Linked DNA regions of Homo sapiens. The protein of the gene in region 1 purifies or fractionates together with the protein of each later gene. This does not show direct contact. Each region holds a gene or a part of one and is shown in the gene's direction. Other genes may lie near its edges.

Region 1 (3,517 bases):
ACCTTAGCCCGGGGAAGTTGAGGCTGCAGTGAGCGGTGATCATTGCCACTGCACAGCCTAGGCAACAGAGTGAGACCCCATCTCAAAAGAAAAGAAGAAGGAAAATAAATAAGTAAATATCCAGGAATGTTGACAGCTGTTGGATTCCCCTGTATCCCCTTGAACGAAACCATCCTGTACTTCTCTAACTCCTTAGGCCCAGCAGCTTCCACACAAGAAAAGAATCCCCGGGAGTCTACAGGAAACATGGTCACAGGACAGACTGTCTGTAAAAATAAACCCAATATGTCGGATCCTGAGGAATCCAGGGGAAATGATGAACTAGTGAAGCAGGAGATGCTGGTACAGTATCTGCAGGATGCCTACAGCTTCTCCCGGAAGATTACAGAGGCCATTGGCATCATCAGCAAGATGATGTATGAAAACACAACTACAGGTATGCCAGAGTCCCTTTCTATAAGGACAGCCTTGGGGTTCTTTTGGATTTTTTAATTTTTTAAATTTTTATTAACAATAGAGATGGGGCCTTCCTTTGTTGCTCAGGCTGGTCTCCAACTCCTGGGCTCAGGCAATTCTTCTGCGTCAGCCTCCCAAAGTGCTGGTATTACAGGTGTGAGCCACTGCACCCGGCCATGGATCTTGGAGTTCTTTTCCATATTTTATTGATATATCTATCTGCTCCTTTAAAAGGCAGGGGTTCTCGGCTGGGCGCGATGGCTCATGCCTGTAATCCCTACAAAACTGGGAGGCCAAAGCAGGAAGACAGGTTGAGGCCAGGAGTTCGAGAGCAGCCTGGGCAACATAGCAAGACCCCATCTCTACAAAGAAACAAAAACTAACTGGGCGTGATGGCACGCACCTGTAGTTCCAGCTACTCGGAAGGCTGGGCAGGAGGATTGCTTGAGCCCGGGAGTTTGAGGCTACAGTGAGCTGTGGTCATGCCACTGCACTCTAGCCGGAGCAACAGAATAAGAACCTGTGTCTTAAGAAAAGAAAAAAAAAAGGCAGGGGTTCTTTTTTTCTGTTTGCTTCCTCTAGCCACTTACAGCTTATACATTTTAATGCATATAGTATTTCATGATAAGGCATCATAGGAGGAGTCGACATTCTCAGGGAAAATGCGGAAGGCCTCCATTTGCATCTTGCTACATTCAGAAAGGTTCTGTCGTTAGGTATTGGGGGAGTTTTGTGAAGTAGATAGGTGACATTTGTACATGTTCTCTCAGTGGTGCAGGAGGTGATTGAATTCTTTGTGATGGTCTTCCAATTTGGGGTACCCCAGGCCCTGTTTGGGGTGCGCCGTATGCTGCCTCTCATCTGGTCTAAGGAGCCTGGTGTCCGGGAAGCCGTGCTTAATGCCTACCGCCAACTCTACCTCAACCCCAAAGGGGACTCTGCCAGGTATATGGGGTGCTTTTGCCTTTGCTGACTTTTCCAAGGTCAGCTTCTCACAGGACTTCCCTTGTCTCCTAAAGGAAGAGGTGCATTTCTCCAGGGGAGTTCCAGATCCATAGGCAGTCCATCATAGTGGGGCTTAGGGTGGGGCTCGGTTTCCAGGGAGAGCAGTTTTGTAGCACTGTGGTGGGATAGCCCTAATCACTGTTTGCCAAGTTCAGCTTCCCAATCTTATAGTGACCGCTGATCTCTGCTGTTCCCACAGAGCCAAGGCCCAGGCTTTGATTCAGAATCTCTCTCTGCTGCTAGTGGATGCCTCGGTTGGGACCATTCAGTGTCTTGAGGAAATTGTAAGGCTTCCTGCTTTCTCTTTCTTTATTCATTCAACAAGTATTTTGGTTGTTTTTTTTTTTTTTTTTGAGACGGAGTCATGCCCCATTGCCCAGGCTGGAGTGCAATGGCACAATCTTGGCTCACTGCAACCTCCGCCTCCCAGGTTCAAGCAATTCTCCTGCCTCAGCCTCCCGAGTAACTGGAATTACATGCATGTGCCACCATGCCCGACTAGTTTTTTGTATCTTTAGTAGAGACGGGGTTTCACCATGTTGGCCGAGCTGGTCTCGAACCCTTGACCTCGTGATCCACCCGCCTCAACCTCCCAGAGTGCTGGGATTACAGGCGTGAGCCAAAGCGCCCGGCAACAAGTATTATTGAGTTATTACTATGTATTTAGCAATTTACTTAGCTCCAGAAAGAAGTATAAGACTATTTGCTTTCATGTTCCCAACTTTAAAGGAACCAACAGTCTAGTTGGTAGTGAAAAACCACAGAACATTTTTAGAACAATGCAGCAGGTAGATAATAAAGTGCCAGAATGAGTTGTACGGGTAATGGTTGTCATAGCAATAATAACAACCTCACTTATATGGTATTGAATATATGACAGGCACTCACACGTTACTCACAGTAACTTGTTTAATCCTCACGACAGCCCTGTGAGGTAGCATTATCTGCATTTTACAATGAGAAATCTGAGGCACAGAGAAGTTACTGAACTTGGCTGGTTACAGCTAGTTAGTGGCAAAGTTTGAGATTCAAACTCAGGCAATAAGAGCTCTAGAAAACATACTCTTAACTTCTGTGTTCTACTGAGGGATACAGAGTAGGAAAGAGAGCGGTTTGGGGTAGAATGGTCAAGGAAGCTTCCTGAAGGTGGTAGGACTTAAGCTGGGTCTTGAAAGATGAGTAGGATTTAGAGAATCAGAGCAAGGAGGGAGGGCATTTCAAACAGAACCCAAGAAAGAGCACAGTTCACATTGTAGAACAAAGAAGACTGTGTTCTGGTTCAAATTATCTGGAAAAGACCAGGCGCGATGGCTCACGTCTGTAATCCCAGCACTTTGGGAGGCCAAGGCAGCAGATTACCTGAGGTCTGAGGTCAGGAGTTCGAGACCAGCCTGGTCAACATGGCGAAACCCCACCTTTACTAAAAATACAAAAAAATTAGCCAGGTGTGGTGGTGGGCACCTGTAGTCCCAGCTACTTGGGAGGCTGAGGCAGGACAGTTGCTTGAACCCAGGAGGTGGAGGTAGCAGTGAGCCGAGATTGCGCCACTGCACTCCAGCCTGGGCGACAGAGGGAGACTCTGTCTCAAAAAAAAAAAAAAAAAAAAAAATCTGGAAAAGATAATAAAGTTGTGAATGTAGGTTGGAACTAAACTGTGGAAGTCCCTGAATGACTTCAGGAGTCTAGGACTTTAACTGTGTTAGCCAGGCACCCAGCATTTTAGTGAGACATTCTGCTTTGTAGCATTTGCATTGCGGGCACAGAGAGTGGAGGTGGCGCTGGGAAGCGTGCTCCTGCCAGCCACATTTTTCTCCTCACTGGGGAAAAGAAAAGAGCCTGGTGGTGGTGATTGGCCATGATGTCATAGGTCAGTTACCGGCAAAAGCCCTACAAGAGGCAGGGGAGAGCACCTGCAAACTGGGGTGCAACAGAAGGGACGTGGGGAAGCAGAGGCTGAGGAGACCAACCCATGGGAAGGAAGGCCCGTGGAGGCTGCTGCAGTGGGCAGTAACGAGGGGCTGGACTTGAGGATTGGAGAAATCACTGCAGAATGGGC
Region 2 (3,517 bases), on another chromosome or scaffold:
TTCCCAGAGTGTTTCCTACTCATTGATTTAGGAATACTGCATTGTATTATCCTTTTTTTTTTTTTTTTTTGGGAGACAGAGTCTTGCTCTGTTGCCCAGGCTGGAGTGGAATGGCCCAGTCTTGGCTTACTGCAACCTCCGCCTCCTAGGTTCAGACTATTCTCTTGCCTCAGCCTCCCGAGTAGCTGGGACTACAGGCACGTGCCACCCCACCCAGCTAATCTTTGTATTTTTAGTAGAGACAGGGTTTCACTATGTTGGCTAGGCTGGTCTTGAACTCCTGACCTTGTGATCCATCCACCTCGGCCTCCCAAAGTGCTGGGATTACAGGCGTGAGCTGCTGCACCTAGTTGGTTTTTCAGTTTTAATATTTGGTTTTTTTTGGAGACGGAGTTTCACTCTTGGTGCCCAGGCTAGAGTGCAGTGGTGCGATCTCAGCTCACTGCAACCTCTGCCTTCTGGGTTCAAGCGATTCTCCTGCCTCAGCCTCCCAAGTAGCTGGGATTACAGGTGTGCACCACCACACCCGGCTAATTTTTGTATTTTTAGTAGAGATGGGGTTTCTCCATGTTGGGTCAGGCTGGTCCCAAACTCCCAACATCAGGTGATCTGCCCACCCGGCCTCTCAAAGTACTGGGATTACAGGCGTGAACCACCACGCCTGGCCCAGTTTTAATATTTCTAAAAGATGGATTTTAATCAAAGTGTATTCTCTGTGAGGCAACAGTGTGATATGGCCATGAAATAAAACAGATTTGATCTTAGGCTGCTTTGGTGGAAATATGGTAACTAGGATGAGGGAAAGAGAGAGATAGTCCTGCTCTCCTCTGCACCAAGGAGTACACCTCAAACAAGCCGTGGATACTGCTTGTTTGAGGCATCATCCTTTAGGGTTAAAAACAAAATGGAGCTCATTCAGAAGAGAGCAACTTGTACCTAGTGGGAATTCAAGTCCCTGCCATTATTATCATAATGGCTGCTGTTTAGTCAGTGTCTGCTCTGTGCAGGCACTATACAAAGATTTTGGGACACATTTCTAACACTCATATGAACCCTAAGGAGCAGTATTTATTTTATTGATAACAAAACAGATTTCAAAAGATTAAATAACTTGTCCATGTTATATACTTAATAGCAGAGCTGGGAATTAAATTTAAATTTGAAGTATGATTGACTAAGCTGGGAATGTGTAGCCAAGAGAATAGAGAACTCAGGGCAAACACAATACATATTTTGTGACTTTCTTGAGGTCTAATTAGTTAGATGTGTTTTAGTTAATGCTGAGGACAGGAAATAAACCCTGTGGATGGAGTTGAGAGATACCACCTCAGAATAAAGAGCTAAGAATCACAGCTATTCAAAGATGGATTAGACTGCTTTGGGACAGTGAGTTCTTATCACCAGGAAGTATTCAAGCATAGGTTAGCAATTGCTGGGTGGATATTGTAGAGAGGATTTGAGATTTAGTTTGCAATTCAATCACCTATCTTTAACATCCTTTCCACGCCGTAGATTTTATGGCCTTCTTTCATTAAATGAAGGCTAGAAGGGACATTGAAATAATTTGGTACTTTCCTTTGCCTCCAGAGAGAAGAGAAAAAATATGATTTCTCCTATAAAATAGCAATTGAGGTGTGAGCCTAATAGTCTTTTTTTTTTTTTTTTTTTGAGACGGAGTCTTGCTCTGTCGCCCAGGATGGAGTGCAGTGGCGCAATCTCGGCTCACTGCAAGCTCCGCCTCCCGGGTTCACGCCATTCTCCTGCCTCAGCCTCCCGAGTAGCTGGGACTACAGGCGCCCGCCACCATGCCCGGCTAATTTTTTTTTTTGTACTTTTAGTAGAGACGGGGTTTTACCATGTTAGCCAGGATGGTCTCGAACTCCTGACCTGATGATCCGCCCACCTTGGCCTCCCAAAGTGCTGGGATTACAGGTGTGAGCCACTGCGCCCAGCCCCTAATAGTCTTTTGTATACTTAATTTCAGGTGGGAGGGACTTAATTGTAATCTTTCAGAGCTTTGGACTTGGTATCAAATTATGCTGTCCTATTTGAACTGTAAAGTTAAATACTTGTGAGTTTAGTAAGAACATAATGTACATCCCATTATCTGTTTTTAATTGCCTGAAAAATGTGTTTTGTATATCATGTTAGTTTCCTATTGCTCTTGTAACAAATTACCACAAATTTATTGGCTTGGGCTGGGTGTAGTGGCTCACGTCTGTAATCCCAGCACTTTGGGAGGTTGAGGCAGGTGGATCACTGAGCTCAGGAGTTCCAGACCAGCCTGCGCAATATGGGAAAACTCCATCTCTGCAAAAAAAACCCCACAAAAATTAGCCAGGCTTGGTGGCTTGTACCTGTAGCCCCAGCTACTCAGGAGGCTGAGGTGGGAGAATCACATGAACCTGGGAGGCAGAGGTTGCAGTGAGTGAGATCGTGCCACTGCACTCCAGCCTGGGCTACAGAGCAAGACCCTGTCTAAAAAAAAAAAAAAATAGTGGCTCAAAACAACTCATACTAAAAATCCGTCTGCACTTAAGATTTTCCTGCAAGCCCTAACGTGTACCGGACAACCTGTTCAGACTCTCATGGTTGGGAATATCCTCTGATGATCTGACTCCCCTAGTCTATGGATTAAATTGATAGAAGATCTGATTTGTATAGTAAACTCCTCTGTTCATACTGGTATTGACTGTTCCTGATTCAAGATGACAGCTACAATGGTACTGTCAAAAACAGCTACGTGGGGCTGGGCACGGTGGCTCATACCTGTAATCCCAGCACTCTGGGAGGCTGAGGCAGGCGGATCTACGAGTTCAGGAGATGGAGACCATCCTGGCTAATGCGGTGAAACCCGTCTCTACTTAAAAAAAAAAAAAAAGCCAAGAGTGGTGGTGGCCACCTGTAGTCCCAGCTACTTGGGAGGCTGAGGCAGGAGAATGGCGTAAACCTGGGAGGTGGAGCTTGCAGTGAGCTGAGATCACACCACTGCACTCCAGCATCAACTGGGACCACTTGAACCCGTCCCGGTTCAAGCGACAAAAGCAAGACTCCGTCTAAAAAAAAAAAAAAAAAAAACAGCTACATGGGAATTTGTTCCTCTGCCGCATTGTGCAGTGACTGGTTTCACCCAGTACTTTGATGTGAGAATAAGCACTTTCCTCATATCAGGAATATTGTGGGTGTTTCCTGTTACTCACGGCTGAATGTAATCTTCGGTACATTACCAATTATGTTTGATTGTATGTGATTAAAAATAATGTGCACATTTTTTCCTCAAAGTTGCTGGACATGTTTCTTCGAAAGCAGTTAATAAACAATTTCTAACAATTTATCTACTAACAAATACTGTTTTTTTAAATTTACTGAGAAGAAATATTAAAATATCTCATTGACAGTCATGGATCAGATAAACTTTATAATTAGCCTTATAATTTTGCTGATTATTTGACATTGTGAGTCAGTATTCACAAAAGTTGAGGCATTTTTTTCTTCATGTATATTTTACTTTTCATAT
Region 3 (3,517 bases), on another chromosome or scaffold:
ATACTAATCCAGCATCAGCCTCTCTGTACCTCATTCCCATTAGTCACAGGAGACCCATTTTATTGTAGGCTTTCATCATTATAACATCTGTGTTGAATAAATAGAAACCCAACTAGAATTTCTCAAATATTCCCTGATTTTAAAAAAAAACTAATATTTCAGAGTCAAGAATTTGATACTACAAAATCATTGTATTTATTAACATATATTAAATGTACATACTTTGTTCTGACTTTCAAACTTAACAAAATGAGTCTAACTGAATAGATAAATATGCTTTTCATTAACTCAGGCTTCTGGCAAAGGTATTTAACAGGTGAAAATATTAAGGGTTGTTCCTTCATCTCCTTGGTATGTGAAAGACAGAATAATCTTACTTGGGGTAGGGCATTGGGCCTGTCTACATGCTTGTGTTTGGTTTGTGCATTTTCAGCACCAGACTATGATAGAATGTTGCCGAAACTGAGTTCATGTGACACAACATCTTTCTCTTTCTCTGTATCTTCAGGGGTCACTGACTTGGTTTCATCTCAAAACACCTTTTGATGAATCTTGAGCTCTTTGACAAGTTTTGCTGGTCTGTTTCAAGACATCAGTAACCTCTTTTTGCATTCTCTGCTGAAACTAGGGAATAAGGCTAATAGTGCTGCCTATTTCATGTATATAAGACACCTTTATTAAGATATAATTCACATACCATACAGTTAATTTAAAGTGTACAACTCGTCTGGGAGCAGTGGCTTATATTTGTAATCCTAGCACTTTGAGAGGCCAAGGCAGGAGGATTGCTTGAGTCCAGGAGTTTGAGACCAGCCTGGGTAACATAGTGAGACCTCATCTCTACAAAAAATTTAAAAATTAGCCCAGCATGGTGGTGCACACCTGTATTTCGAGCTACTCGGGAGGCTGAGATGGGAGGATCACTTGAGCCTGGGAGGTCAAGGCTGAGATGAGCTGAGATGGCACCACGGCACTCCAGCCTGGGCAACAGAGCAAGACCCTATCTCAAAATAAGTAAATACAGATAAATAAAGTGTACAGTTCAATGGATATTAGTATATTCAAAGTTTTGCAGCCATTACCACCATCAATTTTAGAACACTTCTATCACCCTAAAAAGAAATTCATTAGTAGTAGTCACTTAGCGTTTCTCCCCAGCCCCAGGTAACCACTAATCTACTTTCCATCGCTGTGGATTTGCCTATTATGAATATTTCTTACATGGAAACATAGTCTTTGGTGACTGTCTTCTTTCACTTAACATAATGTTGTCAGGGTTTATCCATGTTGTGACATGTATTAGTACTTTGTTCCTTTTTATCGCTGAATAATAATCAGTTGTATGGATTATACCACATTTAGCTTATCCATTCATCAGTTGATGGACATTTGGGTTGTTTCCATTTGGGAACTATTATGAATAATGCTACAAGGAACATTCATAACAGCTGTCAAGTGGTATTCACTGTGATTTGGATTTGTATTTCCCTGATAGTTAATGATATTGAGCATATTTTTATGTACTTACTGGCCATTTGTATGTCTTTTTTGGAGACATGGCTATTCAAATCCTTTGCCAAGTTTTAAAATTCAGTTGTCTTTATTGTTGAATTGTAAGCATTCTTTAAATATTCTAGATATTAACACAAGTCCCTTATCAGATACATGGTTTGCAAATATTTTTCTCTTAATCTATGGTGTTTCTTTTACTTTCTTAATTAAAGTTTTAAATTTTGATGAAATCAGCTTACCTATTTTTTTCTTTTGTCATTTATGCTTTTGATGTCATATTTAAGACTTTGTGTGGCCCAAGTCTCTGAAGATTTACTCCTGTGTTTTGTTTCTAAAACTTTTATTGTTTTAGCTCTTACGTTTGGGTCTAGGATCCATTTTGACTTAATTTATGAAGATTCATTCTTTTTTGCATCCAGTTGTCCACTATTGCCTCAAAAGGCTACTCTTTCCTCATTGAATTGAAAATTGTTCTTTCCCCTTCTGTTGAACATGAAGGTCCTTATAGGCAATATTTAGGAGTTTATATTTTGTCCTAAAAGCATTGGGAGAAATTCTAAAGTTTTTTGTTGTTGTTGTTGTTGTTGTTGTTTTGTTTTGTTTTGTTTTTGTTACAGAGTCTCACTCTGTCACCCAGGCTGGACTGCATTGGCACAATCTCGGCTCACTGTAACCTCCCCCTCCTGGGTTCAAGCAGTTCTCTTGCCTCGGCCTCCTTGGTAGCTGGGATTATAGACACGCAACACCATGCCCAGCTAATTTTGATATTTTTTGTAGAGATGGGATTTCACCATGTTGGCCAGGCTGGTCTTGAACTCCTGACCTCGGGTGATCAGGCCTGCCTCAGCCTTTCAAAGTCCTGGGATTACAGGTGGGAGACACCACGCCTGGCTAAAGGATTTTTAAGTAGGGAAACAATCCTGTTTGTATGTTAAAACATTACTGTAGTCAACAAGGTGAGAGATGATAAGAGACTGTACTAAGATGGTAAATGGAGCCAGGCACAGTGGCTCATACCTGTAATCCCAGCACTTTGGGAGGCCAAGGCAGGAGAATTGCTTGAGGCCAGGAGTTCAAGACCAGCCTAAACAATATAGTAAGAACTCATCCATACAAAAACTAAAATTAGCCAAGTGTAGTGGTGTGCACATGTAGTCCCAACTACTCAGGAAGCTGAGTTGGAGGATCGCTTGAGCCTAGGTGTTCTAGGTTGCAGTGAGCTGTAATTGTGCCACTGCATTCCAGCCTGGGCAACAGAGCAAGACCCTGTCTCAAAAAAAAAAAAAGAAAAGAAAAAGAAGATACAAGGCACAAAGACCACCCCCCACCTCAAAAAAAAAATAGATGGTACATGGGAATTAACATTTAGGGAAGCAGTTAACTTCTGAACCTCCAAAAGACTTTCCTGTTCAGATCAATCCTGTGCCTTGGTTTCCGTATTCTTCTTTAAGCCACTCTTAAATTCCACTTTTACTTTTGATAATGATCATGGATTCTGCCCCTTTTTGTTGGTGGAGTGGGTGGGTTGGGGGTTAGAATCTTCCCTTAGAATCTTTTATTATTTTATACTAAGCAGGAATTGTACAGATGACCTAAGTCTTCTTGTATTGCATTTTTATTTTTAAACAGGAAATTAGAAATATCTTCTGGAAAGCTGGCCAGATTTGCAGATGGCTCTGCTGTAGTACAGGTAAAAAGTCCAGATTTTTAAAATTCATCTTAAAAATGGTTACGGAGACTCATACTAAATGTGTAACTACAACATCGTGTAACTACTTAGAATTTTGGTACTGGAAATTAATTCAGATACTACTAAGATAATTTCTACTGCAAGAATCATTCCAGACAACCAGAGTCCAGAGCACTGCATGTATTAAGTGACCTATTTTTTTTTTTGAGGTGGACTCTTGCTCCATCTCCAGGCCGGAGTGCAGTGGTGCGATTTTGGCACACTGCAACCTCTGCCTCCTGGGTTCAAGCGATTCTTTTGCCTCAGCCTCCCGAG
Region 4 (4,171 bases), on another chromosome or scaffold:
AGACACCGTTTAGTCTGTAACCTGAATTTATCTTGGCTGCGTTATGGCCAGTCTCCATATAGTATGGTATTCAGAAACAGGTCTTATATCCAAATAAGAAATGCAAAGTAATTTACATTTTTAGGGAAGATTTTTAAAGAGGCAACAAAGGGAGACGTATACCCCAAGAAGGTTTAACAATCCTTTCAATCATTTAATTCCTCTAAGTCTCTCTCATCATTACATATTTCTTGTCTCCCTTCTTGTTTGTCCCTCTCTCCTGCAACTCTGTGTAGTAGGACTCTGTTTTCCCCTAACTCAGCTTTTTATTATGTATTTATCAATTTATTATGTATAGATCAATTCAGTTCTTCAGTACCTTACAGCTCTTCTCTCTCTTACTCTAATCTGCACAACTGAGCCCCAGGAGGGACTTGACAAACCATGAGAAAGTCTTTAGAAGTATGGGAAATCGTGTTGGGGAAGGGAGGAAGAATATGAACGCTATGTATATTTACATGTTTTGGTTACATGTCCAGACAACCAATTTGCAAATGAATAAAGTGACGCCTAAATAAATTAGGTGATTTGACACTCTTGAGTCATACGGAGTTGGGCCTAGAACTCAGTGTTACTTCATTTGAAATAACCCTTATTATGGTTCCCTAGCAGGCCATCCTATAGCCTGCCATATATGGTCGTTTTGCACCCCTAGACGACAGAACGCTAGGGAGAGTAAGGAAGGCTGAGTTTTTGCTTCTACTAGGTTCGATGACCTTGGGCAGGTTGTCCTCTCTAAGGCTCTGTGTTTTTCTTCATAAGAAGGGTTAGACAAGATGAACTTTTGGGTCATGTCCAGCACTAAAATTCCTTGCTTCTGATCTGTCCCGGGCCCTGCGGCTGTGGCAGTGGTGGTATCGAGCTAGTCAAGAAGCTTCGCCCCTATTTGTCCCCCACCCTATTGGGGGAGAGGGAGAACCTCTCCCTCTTGGTTGCTTCTTTAGTGTCCTTGTAGGACCCACGTGGTGGTCATCTCCCGTCACGGGGGTCCAGTCTTGGCTCTGCGGGCTTCCCAGGGGCCACATAGGGAGAGGATCCTTCATGCATCAGAGTATCGCAGGCCAGAGTCTATGCCTTATCCCCACCTGTTTGGAACCAGCTTCCAAACCGTGGTCCCCAGCCTTCAGCAGGCCTACCGCGCAGGCGCAACCACCAGCCTGGCGCGAGGCGGACAAACGCCGAGGCCGAGGCAAGGTGAGAGGGCGGGGCTGGCAAGACCCCGCCTCCGTGGCGTCACGTGGGAGGCGGAGTCGGAAGTGTGACGGCGTGCGCGGGGCGGGGCTACTGCTGCGCGCGGGCGCGGGGGCGGGGCGGGGCGCGGCGCGGCGCGGCGCTCGCGGCTGCTGCCTGGGAGGGAGGCCGGGCAGGCGGCTGAGCGGCGCGGCTCTCAACGTGACGGGGAAGTGGTTCGGGCGGCCGCGGCTTACTACCCCAGGGCGAACGGACGGACGACGGAGGCGGGAGCCGGTAGCCGAGCCGGGCGACCTAGAGAACGAGCGGGTCAGGCTCAGCGTCGGCCACTCTGTCGGTCCGCTGAATGAAGTGCCCGCCCCTCTAAGCCCGGAGCCCGGCGCTTTCCCCGCAAGATGGACGGTTTCGCCGGCAGTCTCGGTGAGTACGGCTGGGGAGTCCTGCGTCTTCTGCGAAGGGTAGGAACTTTTTTCCTTCCGCACACAGCCCAGGCCCTGCCCTCCCGCCTGCCCCTCGGGGTGGCAGCGGCTCCACTGCACATGTTCCCTTCGAGGCTGCCGCCCCTCCGCGGACTCCGGTGGACTGAGGGCCCCTCCCCCATGTCCAACTCTCCTCTGTGTCAGACCCTCCTTTCCTCCCGGAGCCCCTTTCAGTGCGGGGCCCTCGTTCCCCCAAAGTGGGAACCCCTTCCTTCTCAGGCCCCCCGATAGCTGGCACACCCCTCCCCGTACACTCACGGCTCCCTCCACTTACCCCCCTTCAGAGTTGGGACATTTCTTCAAATCCAGGCTCCTCTTCAGGGTACAACCTTCCACCACCTTTCCACATACACGCCTCTCTTTCAGGGTGGGGATCGCCTTCACCCGAACAGAGGCTCCTTTTTAGGGGAGGGACCCTCATTCCCTCTTCAGGAAGGGGGCATCCCCCGCCCCCAAGTCTTCACTTTAGATTTGAAGGCGACTTTCCAGTATCCTTCAGAGTAGTAGGCAACTTCCTTTTCAATCCCTCCACTTCTCTGAGCATTTTGCAGTGGTGGAGAGACCTAGAAGCATCGGAGCATCATTTGCTTAATGCAGGAAAGGAAGAGGTGCATCTGTGTTGGGGGACCCTCTTTAAGAGTGAAAGCAGAAGTGTTTTCTGGTTCTGCATACATGCTGGGGAGAAGTGATTCTGCCCAATGAATCAATAGGAAAGGGGGCCTCTATCAGGGAAGGAAAGGATTCTCCATTTTTGGAAGATGTTGTCTTTGTGGAATGGAGAAAGGGAAGAGGTTATTAAATAGGCTGAAGTGCCTTTTCAGTGTTCCTTTCACCAGATGAAGGTAATCTTCTGGCTAGGAAAATCAAAACTCCAGGCTAGTATTCGCTGCCCTAGAAGCTGAATCTGGAATTACTATTCTTCGAGGCCATTGAAATCTAGTAAAAGATTAAGTTCAACTGTTAGAATGGTGAGAGAAACAGTTTCAGCTTTGGCTGATAACGCAGTTGTGTGATACCTACTGCTGGAACTGTATTTTGAGTTTTTTATGTGCAGGTAGCTTGTATTCAGACGCCTTTCTTTTACATTTCTTGATAATAAGTCTCTACTTGGTTAATGTTCACTGATCAGTGAGCAGTCTGGCCATAGGCCGTACTATATCCAGATAATATCGAGATGAGATGGATTTTTAAAATCTAAAGTAAAAAAGTAAGTCAAAGAGCAATGGGCCTATTATAGATATTAAATAGTAAAACCTATAATTTTGGCCTTCCCTTTTTCTTGGGCAGAAAAAATTGTCGTTATATTGCTTTCAGAGTGGAAATCCTAAAATAGGAGGCAACTGAGTGTTGTGTTACTCTTTCCTCCTCAAAGGCACCTGTTGTCCATTATCTAACCTTTGATGTCTTGTAATTCCTTACTTAGGTTGGGCTCTTTTTAGAGAGACATCCATTTTTCCCTGGTTCTTTTTTAGCTCCATGCGTTGGTTTATTCACAGTAAGTGTTGGACCGAAAAACTTGTCCTATATGTCCGCTGAAGGGCTGATCTTATACTAAAGTAAAAATTGAGTGTCTTCTTAGGGGATGTTGTGGAGAGCTGTGCTATCTTTATACTGTATTGGGTCCTCATCCTGTAGGAGTGGTGAGATCACTTTAACTTCTTTCGTGTTGGCTCTAAAGATTTCTGGAGGGCTTGTTAAAGCTTCATCTTCTGTAAGTGTTTAGGAGGAGTCTTTCTCACCAGTTGGGGCACTTAATGTTTATTTTCAAACATTGATTATGCTTTGTAATAGCTTTCTTCTTTCTTAACCAGTTTATGAGGCAAGTGATACAAAAGACCGAGAGATGAAGATGAATTGCAGTTGGGGCTCACACTTTTCATAAAGAGCGTCATTGTTGACCCTAATGTTGGATTTAAAAAATTCATTTGATGCCATGCTTTGGGTGGTATGTGATGAGACTTTCCTTTAGATATGGTGTTAATCAGGAGCAGAGGAGATATGCCTATCAGAGGAACCTGCATCTGCAGAGAGGGAAGGAAATGGTTCCTGGCAGTATTTCTGGAGCTGTTCTTGATGAAGATACTTCTCAGTGGGAGCTCTGTGCTTTCTCTTTCTGTCCCCCTTGCAAGAGTAAAACTAGGCCCCATCTTAATTGAAACCTTAAAGGGGTGGGGGAGGAGTAGTGCTGGTATATTTTACTGGTAGTCTTTAAGCGGAGCTTTGCTCAGCTCTTGCCAAATTGCTTGTTTCTGTTCTCTGCAGTTAATTAGCCTAGAGCTTAGAGTTACATTGATCTTTATTTTACCATCAGGAGAGCCATGAATATAAAGGCAAGCACTTCTACTCTAGTAGGTGTTTAAAAACTTTTTTTTTTTTTAAACAAGAAGTCAAAACGTGAAGTTCTTCTGGGGTTACAACTATTGAAAGCATTTATTCTCAAGGAAGTATGTGTGTATTTCCTT
Region 5 (3,517 bases), on another chromosome or scaffold:
TAGAATGAATGAGTTCAGCGAGTTTTCATATACATGGATGGTGATGGTGGTTTTAGAGGTTACTTTGGAAAGCTGTAACTTCTGGTTTTAAAAAGATGTGTTGATTTACTTTGTATTATAAAGTCTTTCCTTTAAAAATGCAGCTGATGGCTACTTGGTGGGAGCTGACTGCCCTCAAACGATTGTCTTTTGTTTTATCTTGGTCTTACTGAAGGCCAGAGAAAAATTTTAGCAGAGGCCATATTGTGCCTACCTTTTTAACAACTCTTTGATAAGACCTGTTGAATTGTATTTCACTTAAGCTAATCTTTCCGGGCTGTGAACTTCTGGGTGTTATTAAAGCAGTTTAATTACTCATTTATGAGTCTTCGGTATCCCTTGCAGTGGCCATAGAAGTATGCTGAATTTATCTGAATATATTGTATTTGATCCTAGTTTTAATTTTAAATGTGTAAGAAAAGTGACCTAGGTGTAGATTTAGTTGAAAGTGTATTTTAAACACCAAACAATTCTACGTTTCATACTCTTATATGACTCTGGGATGTCTGGACTTTTGGTTTGGATTTTCAAAGAAAACAATTTTCCCCATTTTTTAATTCCACTAGTTATCGTGCTTGAGTTTTATAGACCAAATAAGATCTCCCGTCAATTTGGGGAGTAGTTTAAAACTCTTGATTTGCCCTAGCTCACTTTAATGAAAGTAAATAGGAACTTTCAAAAACATGGTTTTACAGACAGGAATTGATCTGATCCCCTCCAAACTTGAGGTGGGCGGGAAGTAGGTATATAGTGTATGAGGACAATAATTGAATAAAGTAAGTTTGCATTAACTTAAATGTCATCTAGATTTGGGCTGGCTTTTAAAATCAAGTAGCTTTGTACTCTGATCAGTAGATATTAAAGAGATGAGGTTCATATTATGACCTTGATGTACTAAAAATCAGGTACTGTCATGGAATTAGAGTAAAAACTAAATAAAAATCAAGCACTAAATACAGGATTCATTTTACTGCAAAACTCATAATAATATTGTACAAATTTGTCTGATGCAAATTGCCCCAAAAATTCTCCAGTGTTTTCTCCAAGGGCTGCAGTAATTTTAACCATTTTTTTCCAAAATAAATTTTAGGTAGATCATTCAATTTGTCAAATATAGTAAGTGGATACCATTTTTATTTTTTGTTAGATCAAGTTTACAAGTAAAAAGTGAGTAAAACTGGTCAAAGTTTAAAATAGTACCTTCATATTATAATGTTTTTGGCTTTTCAGAGGATGCATTTTAATATAACAATTTGCATGGGGACTCCTTCCTCTTATTTTAAGAGCAGCTTATGAAACTGAAGTTAGGAGTTGCCAACTATGCCTGTGAATTGACCATGCCAGTATAAATCATATATATATGAAAATTTTCTTAGTTTGAGCCAGGTCTTGGCTGAAAATGTTTGAAGGTTTCTTTAGGATAGTGTGTTCTCTCTGTGTAGAAAGAATTATGTATATTTGGAAAACATTTGTTAGAACTAGTTTCTTAGAGAAAAGCCAAATTAACTAACCTAGATAAAAGGTAGAGCAGAGGAAATCAATATTACCTAATGCTGTGATATAGTTTTGATGCAAGGGTAAGCATTCACAACAATCCCAACCCGAATTGGCATTATTGGGTTTCCTTGAAATGAAACCTGTTACAGAGAGACCTGTTAGGACACATGTTGAACTAAACATAGTAGGTTTGTTGAATTCGAACTGGACCAGCCTGCAGTGGAGTCCTGTGGTAAGTGATTATTCACTTTGACGTAATTGTTAGATTTAGAATTGTTGTATTGATGTATAAGGCAAATAATCTTAAGATATCCATAAAAATGAATATATTTGCACGTATTTCAGGTAAGTTATTCCTTAGTTCTGGTTTCCAGAGTTAATAGTGGTGTAATAGCAGTTCAGGTGATTACAAAATAAGTACCATCAGAATTTGACACTAGTAATTGATGATGTGAAAATGAGGGAGGGAGAATAGGTAGGAGGACTGATTACCTTGAAGATTAGGTTTGAACCAGAATGATTCCATTGGTAGTTTATTACTGTGTATGAGAAAAATGATTATACAAAGCACAGGCATCAGTATTTTCCCTTCTGTTTAGTTTATTCCAACAAATTACTCATCTTTATGTTCAAGTTTTTAGGCTAGTCCTGGTAGAGAGGAGATGGGATGGATACAAAAGATGAACAAGACAGAAGGTTTGCCCATGAGTCAAGGAAGATAAACAAGTATATATAAATACAGCATGAATATAAATACAGCATGAAACAGACCAGCTGGAAGATCATAAATACCCCTCAGATAGGGTTCTAAATGTGGAGGATGAGGAGAAACTGCTTCCCAACTGGGAGCATTTGGCAGAGGCTCTATGGCTGTAAGATTTCCTCTGGCAGAGGTTGGGTTAAGGGCCTTCCAGGTAGAGAGAAGAACTTGAACAAAGTTAACAGAGCCTGGGAAGTGCAGAGTTCATTTTGAGGAACAGTAACATAGTATATATGCTTGGGAATAATGCCTAAGGTTGCTTGCTGGCTCAAAACAGATCTCATGTTTGCATATTAGTTGGAAATTAATAATAAAGAATATTAGAATTAAACAGTATTGACATTTGTTTTGTAGTCTTGTGCTTTTATACCTCTCATAAACATAGGTCATTAGCCCCTGCCCTTTGGGAAAGGACTTTTTTTTTTTTTTTTAATCACTTGGGTTGTTGCAAGTTAAATGAAAAATGTTTATGTGGAATTGCATTTGTGTTCTTTTTTTATGTAATGGGAATATTTTTGCCATTTATGTCAAATCTCTTGAAGATCAGGACTTGTTTTACATGATCTGCTCTACCTAGATCAATGACAGTCTTTGATTATTCTGAATATCTAACTTAAATTTATCATTGTTATAGATTATGATGCATCATTATCACAGAAGAAATTCGTGTCTATAGCTTTTAAGGACTTGATTACATCATTTTCAAGCCTGATAGTTTTGGAATCACCATTAGAGCTTAAGACACACCTGCCTTCATTTCAACCACCTGTCTTCATACCCTGACGAAGTGCACCTTTTAACACTCCTTTGTCCTTGGATTACTTAAGAGTTCCCAGAAATACATTTGCCACCAACAGAGTAGGTAAGTGAATGTTCTCTGCCTAGTCCAGTATTAAGACACATTGTTTTTCTGAAGACGGATGTCGAGTACAGTAAACCTTTCATACTCTTTTTTTAAAGGCAGAGAAGTCAGTAATCATTTGAGTATAAAAAACATCATATTTTTCTTTTCTATATTTTGACTTTAAATAAATCAGTAACTTCAAATTAAAATTTCTTACTGCCTTTTTTTTTTTCCTTAAAGAGATAAGATCTCTGTTGTCCAGGCTGGAGTGCAGTGGTGGGATCATAGCTCACTGCAGCCTGGAACTCCTGGGCTCAAGTGCTTCTCCTGCCTCAGCCTTCCTAGTAACTGGGACTACAGGTGTGCGCCACCACCAT

The links.
Region 2: the proteins of NCAPD2 (region 1) and ACBD3 fractionate together in Homo sapiens (co-fractionation; one large-scale study listed by BioGRID). This does not show direct contact.
Region 3: the proteins of NCAPD2 (region 1) and PNPT1 fractionate together in Homo sapiens (co-fractionation; one large-scale study listed by BioGRID). This does not show direct contact.
Region 4: the proteins of NCAPD2 (region 1) and EML4 fractionate together in Homo sapiens (co-fractionation; one large-scale study listed by BioGRID). This does not show direct contact.
Region 5: the proteins of NCAPD2 (region 1) and IVNS1ABP fractionate together in Homo sapiens (co-fractionation; one large-scale study listed by BioGRID). This does not show direct contact.

The regions. Positions count from the first base shown.
Region 1 is NC_000012.12:6,521,602-6,525,118, forward strand, and holds part of NCAPD2 (condensin complex subunit 1), read left to right. Parts: intron 1-196; coding exon 197-436; intron 437-1,226; coding exon 1,227-1,401; intron 1,402-1,660; coding exon 1,661-1,745; intron 1,746-3,517. UniProt on the Homo sapiens protein: Regulatory subunit of the condensin complex, a complex required for conversion of interphase chromatin into mitotic-like condense chromosomes.
Region 2 is NC_000001.11:226,176,726-226,180,242, reverse strand, and holds part of ACBD3 (Golgi resident protein GCP60), read left to right. Parts: intron 1-3,517. UniProt on the Homo sapiens protein: Involved in the maintenance of Golgi structure by interacting with giantin, affecting protein transport between the endoplasmic reticulum and Golgi. Involved in hormone-induced steroid biosynthesis in testicular Leydig cells.
Region 3 is NC_000002.12:55,687,330-55,690,846, reverse strand, and holds part of PNPT1 (polyribonucleotide nucleotidyltransferase 1, mitochondrial precursor), read left to right. Parts: intron 1-3,141; coding exon 3,142-3,202; intron 3,203-3,517. UniProt on the Homo sapiens protein: RNA-binding protein implicated in numerous RNA metabolic processes. Catalyzes the phosphorolysis of single-stranded polyribonucleotides processively in the 3'-to-5' direction. Mitochondrial intermembrane factor with RNA-processing exoribonulease activity.
Region 4 is NC_000002.12:42,167,987-42,172,157, forward strand, and holds the start of EML4 (echinoderm microtubule-associated protein-like 4), read left to right. Parts: upstream 1-1,366; 5' UTR 1,367-1,625; coding exon 1,626-1,650; intron 1,651-1,983; exon of another isoform or gene 1,984-2,245; intron 2,246-4,171. UniProt on the Homo sapiens protein: Essential for the formation and stability of microtubules (MTs). Required for the organization of the mitotic spindle and for the proper attachment of kinetochores to MTs. Promotes the recruitment of NUDC to the mitotic spindle for mitotic progression.
Region 5 is NC_000001.11:185,310,736-185,314,252, reverse strand, and holds part of IVNS1ABP (influenza virus NS1A-binding protein), read left to right. Parts: exon of another isoform or gene 1-1,768; intron 1,769-2,930; 5' UTR 2,931-3,158; intron 3,159-3,517. UniProt on the Homo sapiens protein: Involved in many cell functions, including pre-mRNA splicing, the aryl hydrocarbon receptor (AHR) pathway, F-actin organization and protein ubiquitination.